Linked DNA regions of Homo sapiens: region 2 is linked to region 1. A link means that fine-mapping ties the variant in region 1 to the expression of a gene that starts in the linked region. Tissue or cell type: whole blood. Region 1 holds a variant in brackets; the other region holds the start of a gene. All regions are shown on one strand. Distances are from middle to middle.

What was found. PIP is the estimated chance that this variant, and not a neighbour inherited with it, causes the effect.
Region 2: it holds the start of MCC, and the variant in region 1 is fine-mapped to the expression of MCC in whole blood (TOPMed, PIP above 0.99). The same link has a PIP of 0.9 or more in blood mononuclear cells.

Annotation. Positions count from the first base shown.
Region 1 is chr5:113,059,541-113,064,540 of GRCh38, reverse strand. MCC (MCC regulator of Wnt signaling pathway) reads left to right here. Exons shown (of 19, transcript NM_001085377.2): 14 at 374-557. Among named protein-coding and RNA genes, the nearest start is that of DCP2, 85 kb to the right of the region's middle. The variant A/G (reference allele first, on the strand shown) is at 2,035.
Region 2 is chr5:113,485,847-113,490,846 of GRCh38, reverse strand. MCC (MCC regulator of Wnt signaling pathway) reads left to right here and starts at 2,394. Exons shown (of 19, transcript NM_001085377.2): 1 at 2,394-2,602. The coding sequence starts at 2,433. RefSeq lists an enhancer at 2,201-2,495.

The sequences.
Region 1 (5,000 bases):
AATGCACAGAGGAATGGCCAAATGGTAGACTTGTGGCTGAATGGGAGGAGAAGCCAGGAGCCTGGATCATTAGAAAAATCAGAGCGTGTTAGAGCTGGAAACAGAAATGTGGTGATCCCATTGGTTAACTCCTACACTTGTCCCTGAGGCCAGTGGAGCCCAGAGAAAGAGCAGAGAAATACCTTCCCACATGTAGCGTCTAAGTGATAGTGCCAGGCCCAGAACACAGATCTTCTCTTCGGCTGGGCACTGCCAATTCCCTTCCACAGTGCCACCTCTGCCCTAAGTAACAGAGTTAATTATGCATAGTCCCTCCCAGGCGTGCCTTGTCCAGGCCTATGTTGATTAATCCGTTGGCTTCTCTGCCACATAGGAGACCAGTCGGGGGATGAAAACATCACTCAGATGCTCAAGCGAGCTCATGACTGCCGGAAGACAGCTGAGAACGCTGCCAAGGCCCTGCTCATGAAGCTGGACGGCAGCTGTGGGGGAGCCTTTGCCGTGGCCGGCTGCAGCGTGCAGCCCTGGGAGAGCCTTTCCTCCAACAGCCACACCAGGTAATGCTCAGCCTTCTGCTCTGGGGTGGGCGTGTGTCCACATGGCATCTGTTCACTGGACTTGGTGTGCAGTGACCCAGCTCTTGGGGACTGTGTGGCTTGGGAAAAGGCAGACATGGCTTCTGGCATGCAGCCTGCTCCATCCAAAAAGGAGTCAGAAGATCAGAACAGAAGAGCTAGAAAGTGGCCCTCTCACTTTGCCAATGTGGAAACTGCAGTCGAGATTGGAGAGATTTGCTGTGGAAAGTGGTAGAGATGGAATGCAAACCTACCTTTCTGTCAGATCCATTTTCTCTGCATTGTTCTGTTCTCCATTTCTTTATAAGTCTTCATTTCCAGGAAGCACTTAGGGTAGCCAAGAGCCGTTTGCTCCAAATGGTCCCTCTGGTCCCAAGGCCCAGCCCAGCTCATCCTAGTTCCAGACATCACTCTCCTGTCTTCTTGTGCCTCCATCGTCTATAAGCTCTTCTCAGGCAAGAGCCTCTCCTCTCATCTCTTTTGCCTCATGGAATGATGCCACATTCACAGCACATGCTTACAGGCACTCAGTCATGAACCTGAGGTCAAGTTCACTGTCTGTGAATCTAGGAAATTAAAGTGGGTGCTTGAAAAAGGAAGCTAGGAAGAGAGCGGCGAAGACCTTGCAGAGCATAATTTGCTGAAGTCATTTCATTCTTTGGATGGGAGTGGAGAGTCAGAACAAAACCCTTTCTACTTACCTTCTCATTTCTTGCCACCAAAGCCCTAAAAACACGAATGCCTTCCCTTTATTTACCAGTCCTCAGTTTAGAAGACACTTTGTTAGAGATTCTTACTTAATTGCCAAATCGTGAAAGACTTGGAAGGGTAACTTACTCCATTTTCACAGGTTAGGAAACCTTGGCTCAGAGATAATGTCAGTGACCTGCCTGGTGATAAGAGGGAAACCTGGATGGGAACCCGGGATCTTAGCATCGAGCATATTGTTCTTCCCACATTGGATCTCATGACATAACAAAACAGTGTCTACTTGCAGACTAAGTGACCAGAACTGCATAAAGATAGATTGACTGTTGAGAGCCAGAGGAGAAATACTGATGCTTTCTTGGTGCTGGAAAGCAACTTAATGTTCCCCTCTCTCTTTCTCCCCTGGTGGGACCCGCCATCTACCTTAGCGCTTCCATTTACCTCTACTGGCCCAGGTGTCCCAGGAGAGGGAACATGCCCAGTAATGCACTCAGCCAGGTGCCCACAAACAAAAGGGACTTGATTCTTCTTTACTTCAGCAACAATTGTCTCATTCAGTGAAGCACAGATTATAATTTTTTTCATAAAACCATATTCTACTGTGTAAACACAGAAAGCAGATGCTCTTCTTAATGACTCTTCCAGATGTGTATAATCTATAATTTGTGTGTTTATTTAGTATAGAAATGTAGTTCTCATGTTGTCAGTGATGCTGTGTTGTTTTATTAGTGAACATAAGAGTTTGCTTGAC[A/G]GGAAATGTGTGCTGTTTCAGTAGCTTATGAGGTTTGTGCTACGGATCATTTGCTCAAACCTCCCTACCCCCAAAAAGAATGTTGTGGTTTTATTCTGAATCAGAGACAAATTTAGAACCAGTCAGGAGGGAGAACAATTTTATCACCATCTATTTAGCTTTTGAATATTTGTTAGAAGTACTTGAACTTACAGGTTAGCCTTGATTTTGAGACTGTTTTCTTAGAGAAATTTAATTTGGGATCCTGTTTTTCTGCAGATTGAGATAAATTCAAAACACAGAGTCATTGTTTCCAAGGATAACCTCACCAAAGAATGGTTCTTAAATTAATTTCAGTCTCAAATGGATCTTCCCATCAAAGTACAGAGGTCTTTAGCTCCAATGTCACCCAATTCTCCTTAAAAAATCACTTTTACCCTCCCGCCCAAATCAGAGCAGCTCCGAGGATGGAAGAACCACACACGAGGCATTCATTTGTCACTCCACATTCTTAGAACCTGATGCAATTAGACTGCTTTATGTTAAACGTGGGTTTAGAATAAAGTCCCAAAGCACCAGACCCCTTTCATAATTATGATAATTATAGTAATTTTGTTTGTAAATCTTGCCATTCTGGCTCAGACATTCCCCCTTGTCAAGTTTATGAAAATAAAGAAAAGGATCTTTCTGAGTTGGAGCTTTATGTGGCCCAGCAAATCTCCTTTCCCCCCGCTGTAACCACCCAGCTTCAAGAGGTCTAATCAGAGTGTCCATCAACTGCCCCTCAAGGGTTCAGGAAAGAAACGCTGAGTATTGTGCCTCCAGCGGCATTTCTGGCAGCCCATAGGCAGCTCCTAACGACAGGAGGGTTAATGGTTTTAGAGAGGAGCAGCAGAGGGGTAGTTAACCAGCAAGGAGAATAAAAGTGATAGCCAACCCTCAGTTGACTGTTGGCAGGTGCCCAGGGTCGGTGCCACTTCATTTTTGAAAAATATAGCCATGGCCTCATCAGAAAGTATAATAGTCTTATGGACAGAGTGACTAGGTTGATTGCCTGGATGGCTTTATCAACATATCATGACAAAGAGGCACAAGGACTAAAATGTTAGGAAGTGGAAATAGGAATCCTTGGTCAAGCCCACCCTCTGTGGCAGGCCTCACAGTTCAGCTCCTTCTGTGCAGCGTAGTCATCGATCTCAATCCACAAAGGAACTGTGGCCAAGACAGGATCGGCCACAGCAAGTCTGTACTCTCAGAGACTGAAATTGAGTCCCTTGTCTCAGCACCAGGTGGGGACCCTGGAGAGCTGTGAGAATGGTGGTTGCAGCCTTGCCGTGAGCCTCTAGGTACCTCCAGGTAGCCAGGGTGCTGCCTGTGTGGCCACTCACTCTGGGGTGTAATCCCCAAGTTGGACTGGACAGCAGCAGAGCTCAAGAGATGCCTAGCTCTCACTCTTTGAACTAGTCTGGATTAAGGTAAAGTTTCATTGGGGCAGAAAAAATGGTTGAGGAGAGTGAAATCATGTCCATTGAAAGGGTGAATTTTTTGAAACAGCCACCTAGTTAGAACAGGCATCAGTAAGCTTCAGGGAATGAGAGTCAGACTAGATCTGGCTGAAACAGTCATCTTTACTGAGGAGAGGTGCTTTTCCATCTGTGTGTCAGGAGAGTCTATCCAAAGTCCTTGAGACAAACGCTTACTGGTGTTAGTGAGCTCTAGAGACCAGCCCCGACACATCCTTGACATGACAGCATTATGATCAGTCCTCCTGCTCAAATGTCCTCATCACTTACCTTTTAGGTTCTATGAGAACAAGGTATAGACATGGAATGCTTTTTATGGTTTTTTTTCTAGTGAGATCTAACTTCTTGATTTCAAAAGAACTGTATGTTTGTTGTAAAACTAAGCAATTAAAATGCCAGCATTGCAAAATGCATAGGATGGTAAAGTTCTCCATTCTAGGACTCTCACTGGAAAGGACATTGGACTGACCCCACTCATTCAGATAAATTTCAAATGCTCAGCAAAACAGATGCCCACCCCCAGGGCACTTTCCTTCTAAAAATGAGCTGCTAGGCCGGGCGCAGTGACTCACACCTGTAATCCCAGCACTTTGGGAGGCTGAGGCGGGCAGATCATGAGGTCAGGAGTTTGAGACCACCCTGGACAACATAGTGAAATCCTGTTGCTATTAAAAATACAAAATTTAGCCAGGCATGGTGGTACATGCCTGTAGTCCCAGCTACTCAGGAGGCTGAGGCAGGAGAATTGCTTGAACCCAGGAGGCGGAGGCTGTGGTGAGCCAAATCATGCTATTGCACTCCAGTGTGGGCAACAGAGTGAGACTCTGTCTCAAACAAACAAACAAACAAACAAACAAAAAGAGCTGCTCCTTGATGGAAATGAGATCTCAGCTAGGGCCAGGTAAGATGTTGATGAAAACTTCAGGAAAATGTCATCACGGATTTTCAAGGCAAAAGAAATGAAATGTCCTTCTAGCCTTCCACCAAGGCAAGCTGAGGAGGCTATGAAAAATGAATTTTTCTTCTAATGAGCAGGCTGGGGGACTGTCTTGAGGACAGAGGTGGGGCATGGTGGAGAGGGATAGAAGAGAGGATATTTGACGTCGATAGCTGGTTTGAACAGCTTCTCCTATAGTGGACAGGGTAGGTGGAGAGTGGGTCGGCCCGAACCGTCCCGAACCAGCCAGCCCCGCATTCCCACCAGGCTACAGGCCTGCTGTGTATGCTTTGTGCTGGAAGAGCTGCTGGCAATGAACAGATGCAGAGGAAAGCCAGCGTGACGGGAGCTCCAGCAGAGCATCACGGAAAGGAGAAACCCACACATCCTAGACTAGCTCCTCAAGAAGCCAGAGCAAGACACACATGTGTGGCGAGGGTTTTTGTCATTAGCCTTCCCCCACAGTCGCTCTCAGAGAACACAGACAGGCTCCTGTTCTGGAGAGGAGGAATAATGCAGCCACAGAA
Region 2 (5,000 bases), 430 kb before region 1:
TCAGCCTTCCAGAAAGCCCTCAGGCATAGAACAGTTCAGCTAAGTTCTTTGCCAATTTATAACAAGGATGGTCTTTACTCCATTTTCTTGTACCTTGTTCCTCAGTTCCATCTGAGACCTTGTCAGAATGGCCTTTACTGTCCATAGTTCCATCAGCATTCTGATTATGACCATTTAACCAATTTCTAAGGAGTTCCAAACTTTCCCTGTTCTTCCTGTCTTCTCAGCCCTCACTAGAACCTAGGCTTTTTCTAGACTGCTGCTTCATTCTTGTAGCCTCTGCTCATTATCCAGTTTCAAAGCTGCTTCTCCATTTTCAGGTATTCGTTTTCGTTAACACCCCACTCCCGGTACTAATTTCTGGTCTTGTCAATTTTCTGTTGCTTAGAACAGACTACCTGAAACTAGGGTGATTTATAAAGAAATGAATTTATTTCTTACAGTTCTGGAGAATGAAAAGTCCAAGGTCAATGGGCCACCCTGCTGGTGGGGACTCTGTGCAGAGTCCCAAAACAGTGCAGGGCATCACATGGCAAGGGGGCTGAGCCTGCTAACTCAGGTCTCTCCTTCTCTTCTTATAAAGTCACTAGTCCCACTCCCATGATAACCCATTAACTCATTAACTCATGAATCTATGATTTTAGTGCCCTGAAATACTGGGAACTTAGAGAATAATAAAGAAGTAAAGTAGGAATAGGTAGATGGGGTGGAGAGGAGGAGAAAGAGAGCAGAGATTCCTTCCTTCTGACCTAGCAGACATTCCCAAGACATATGGACTTGTTCCAGTTATATATTGCTGCATAACAAATCACCTCAAAACTTAATGGCTTAAAACAACAATTTTTAATTATTATCTTCACAGCTCTGGGGGTTGGTTAGCCAGTTTTGCTCAGGGTCTCCAATGCAGTTGCAGCATCTAGAGCTAGCATCATCTCTCACTCATGTCTGGCACCTAGTCTGGGAAGATTCTAAGATCCAGGGCTAGAACAGCTGTAGCTCTTTGGTCATCTCCTTTTTTCTTTACATGGTCTTTCTGCATGGTTTCTCCAGCTTCAGGGTAGCCAAACTTCTTTTCAGGCAGCTCAAGGCTTCAAAGGTAAGTGTCCCAAGGGAGAGAGCCAAGTGCAATCTGCATTGCCTTTTCTAACCTAGTCTCAGAAGTCAAGGCAGTCACAAGTCCAATCCAGGTTTAGGGGAAGCAACAGACTCCACCTCTTGATGAGGGGTGCACCAAAGAATCTGTGGACATATTTTAAAACCACCAGAGAACTTCACACGCCTCTCTGGCAGAAAATCCAGGACAGAATAATGAGTCATTCACGAAACCACAAATTGCTTCACTGTGGTTTCCCTTTGGCTATGGGGGAATAGTGCAGTGTTTAAAGGCTCCTGCTCTGGAGTTAGGCTGCCCGGGCTTGCCTCTGCCCTAACACTTACTAAACCTGGAACCTTGAGCAGGTCTTGGTACCTCAGTTTTCTTACCTGTAAATTGGGAACAATGAGAGCTAACAGTTGTTGAGCACTTACTAGGTGTCAGACATTGTCCTAACTGCATTATGTCTGCTCTCCTTTTATATGTAAGATAACTCTATGAGGTACTTATCTATTAATACTTCCTAAGTCGTAGGATTGATAATAAAAGAGGCATCTTCCAGGTCTGTAGTGTGGATCAAATGAGACCATCTATTATGTTCGCTCTTGGCATTATTAAAGCTGTTGGGGGAAATTCTAGTGATGCCTGGCCAGTAGAGTGAGCCGTTTCCAGAAATTGACCCAACGTACACAATGCCACACAGCGTGCAGACTCTTCCCAGTACAGAGTGGGAGCCAAGATGAGGGCTGCGAGGGCCAGGTTTCTTGACAGGTGTCAAAATTTCATAAAAAGGCCAGTCATTCCGGTTCTCATTGGTGGCTATGGGTACAGAACCCGGAACAATCCTGGAGAGTGGGATTACAAGCACCGTTTTGAGTTTGCAGAAGGAGAGTGTTTATATAGCTTCTCTGGAAAAGGAAGCCATGACTCCGGGCGGTCGGAGAAGGTCTGCCGGGAGTACACCTGCCCTCTGCCTGAAGCGTCCCCAAGTGTCCCGGGCCCGCGTCGTTGCCGGATGCACAATGCTGACACCCTTCCCGGGGGCTTCCAGTGTATTCTGCCTCCTCTTGTGTTCCCGTTGCCACCCTTAGCTCCCTGACTCTTCCAGCCACCTTCCCCTCCTCCCTCTTCCCTGAGGTGCCTCCTCGGGCGATTCCAGAGCGCCCATCTTCCCAGTCCGGGCAAAACCCGGAGAGGTGGAATCCCTCGCCCGGAGCGCCCCGGCGGCCACTGGGCATGCTCCGTTGTCAGGCAAGTTCGGGGCTGCAGGCAGCTTGCGCGCCGCGCGGATTCCAGCTGCGGTCGCGCGTACTCCTCCTCCCAAGTAGGGAGCGGGCGCATGATGGCGGCCGCGGCGGCAGCGGCTGCGGGGAGCTCCAGCAGCGGCGGCGGCGGCGGCGGCAGCGGCAGCAGCAGCAGCAGCAGCGACACGTCCAGCACCGGCGAGGAGGAGAGGATGCGGCGCCTCTTCCAGACGTGCGACGGCGACGGGGACGGATACATCAGCAGGTACGCGGGGAGGTACGAGGAAACCGACAGGAGCGAGATCAGTCCCTCCGCGCGCCCTTGACCCCTGCTCTGCCCCCTCGCCCCAACTTGCGGCAAGTTGCTCAGAAGCTCGCGGGAAAAGTTGGCCGCGACTCCGAGAGCGCGTAGCCGGCTCGGCCACGAAGGCCGAGGGGACTGCTCTGTTCGCCTTGCGGGGGTGCCAGTTGGTCCAACTTTTCCCAGCGCTGTCTTTGTCTAGGCGTTGGGAGACATCTCCTTAGGATGCGCACTCTTCCGGGGGCTTGGAGTGTTCTTCCCTGTGGGAAAAGGAGTTCTGGCCGCTTGTCCCAGGTAGGAGGGGCTGCCCCACAGCCTCGGGGTCCTGGGCATCAAGATGCCGCAGCACGGGGCAGCGATCTGCCCGGCGGCTTGGTGGACACCCCAGGGCCGCACCGGGAGGAGATGAGCTAAGCGACAGCCTCGGACAGGGAAATAACCTGTGAAGAAACTTTCTTGTGCCGCAGAACCCATGAATTCCAAACTTCAGAGCCCAAAGAATGGGTATCGTTTGCCACCCAGTATTGATTTAAACGCAGTAGCCTGAGAGGAACGAAGCGCTCAGGAGCAAACTAGGGCTAGACCCGACTCCTACCCGGCTCTGTGCGCTGACCAGGTGAGCTTCGGCGTGGCTCCGGGCGCCTCCGCGCCTCCACTCACAAACAAACTTTGGGGTGTTTGCTTCGGATCCCCCGCACTTCCTACAGAGGCGGTATTTAAGCTTCCTGCCTCCCGGCTTGGCCAAATAATTACTTCTGCCCAAATTTGTGTCACTTAGACTCTTGTGGTGAAGAAGGCAATCGCAACATTTTCTGGTATGCTTCTATTGAATGGTTGACACCGGCCATTGAAGACTTGGTATCCGTGGAAATTTGAATTGCCTTGGATGAAGGAGCAGCCTAAGTTGTGCATTACATGTTTCTTTAGTCTATGTCTTGGTGATGCTAAAGATCGTTTCTGAAAATCCGGGGCTGCTTCCTGATTGTCCCTGCCTACCTAAAAAAAAAAAAAAGAAAGCAAAGTGCGGAATTTTTCCCTTAAAATAAAAAAAATTATTTATTTGGGACTCAACGCAATTTTGATCATTCTTAGGTGAATTTTTATTACTTTGCTAAAGTTTTACTGAGAAACATTAGGAAGATATCAGAAAACTTGATGGAGTAATTCTGTTCGGAAATGAAAATAATATGTAATTCTGATTGACTCCATGCAAATTTCTATCTGGAAGTCTCGTTATTTTGGTTCTGGGAGTAAAAGAAATTTCATTATATAGTTTTCCTTTTTGTTGTTTTCCTACTTGAAAGGTTATTATCTCATTTGCAATAATAAAGGCAAACTCCAACTTTGGATACAATTTTTTTTTTTTTTAGACAGAATCTCGCTCTATCACCCAGGCTGGAGTACAGTGGCGTGGTCTTGGCTCACTGCAACCTCCGCCTCCTGGTTCAAGAGATTCTCCTGCCTCAGCTTCCCGAGTAGCTGGGATTACAGGTGCCCACTACCACTCCCGGCTAATTTTCGTATTTTTAGTAGAGAAGGGGCTTCACAATTTGGCCAGGCTGGTCTCGAATTCCTGACCCTAAGTGATCCGCCCGCCTCGGCCTTAGGAAGCGCTGAGATTACAGGCCTGAGCCACCGCTCCCCGCATGGATGCAAAAAAGTTTAATTTCACACGGGCAAGAGTGCATACAGAAAACTAGCAGCGTGCTATCCTTTTCTAATTTGGCCTATTAATATATTGCTTTATCTGAACTACACTTTCTATATAAATGCTCACATTATTTTCGGTGATTCTACCCGGGAGGATAATGAATTCTGTAAGCGTAATTTGAGTAAAGTGGGTGGTGATAAAGAAGCCGTTTTGGATTAGAGTAGAAACTGGCTGGGGCAAAAGTGGAAAAAGTTGTTAACATTCCTTGAGCTGCATTACTTTAATGTGTCTGCTTAAAAGTTTCAAGGTATGTGTAGTAATGAACCCTAAATCATAACTTTAACTGTGGGTGGAGCTGCCCTGAAAATTATGCTGTGGCAGAATTGCCATGTAGGAGAAGTTTAGGGATGGCAATCTAGGGCAACAAGGAACTTGTCTGGAAGTGTGTTTACCTGGTAAGCACAGTTTTACCTGGAATTTACGTTTATGTGGTAAGACTTGGGGAATGGGGCTAATGAAGGTAAGGGGCATTAAATGATTCCCTCTCTGAAGCCACTTTTCTGTGCTGCTTTCATTTAATGACCTGTACTTACCACTCTGTAGTGGGTGATGTGGTTTGGAGGGTTGTGCATTCCTGTTCTATCAGACATGAGAGTTGGACTTTTTAACATTAAAACCTTAAAAACTTTGGATTCATCTAAAGACGTTAAA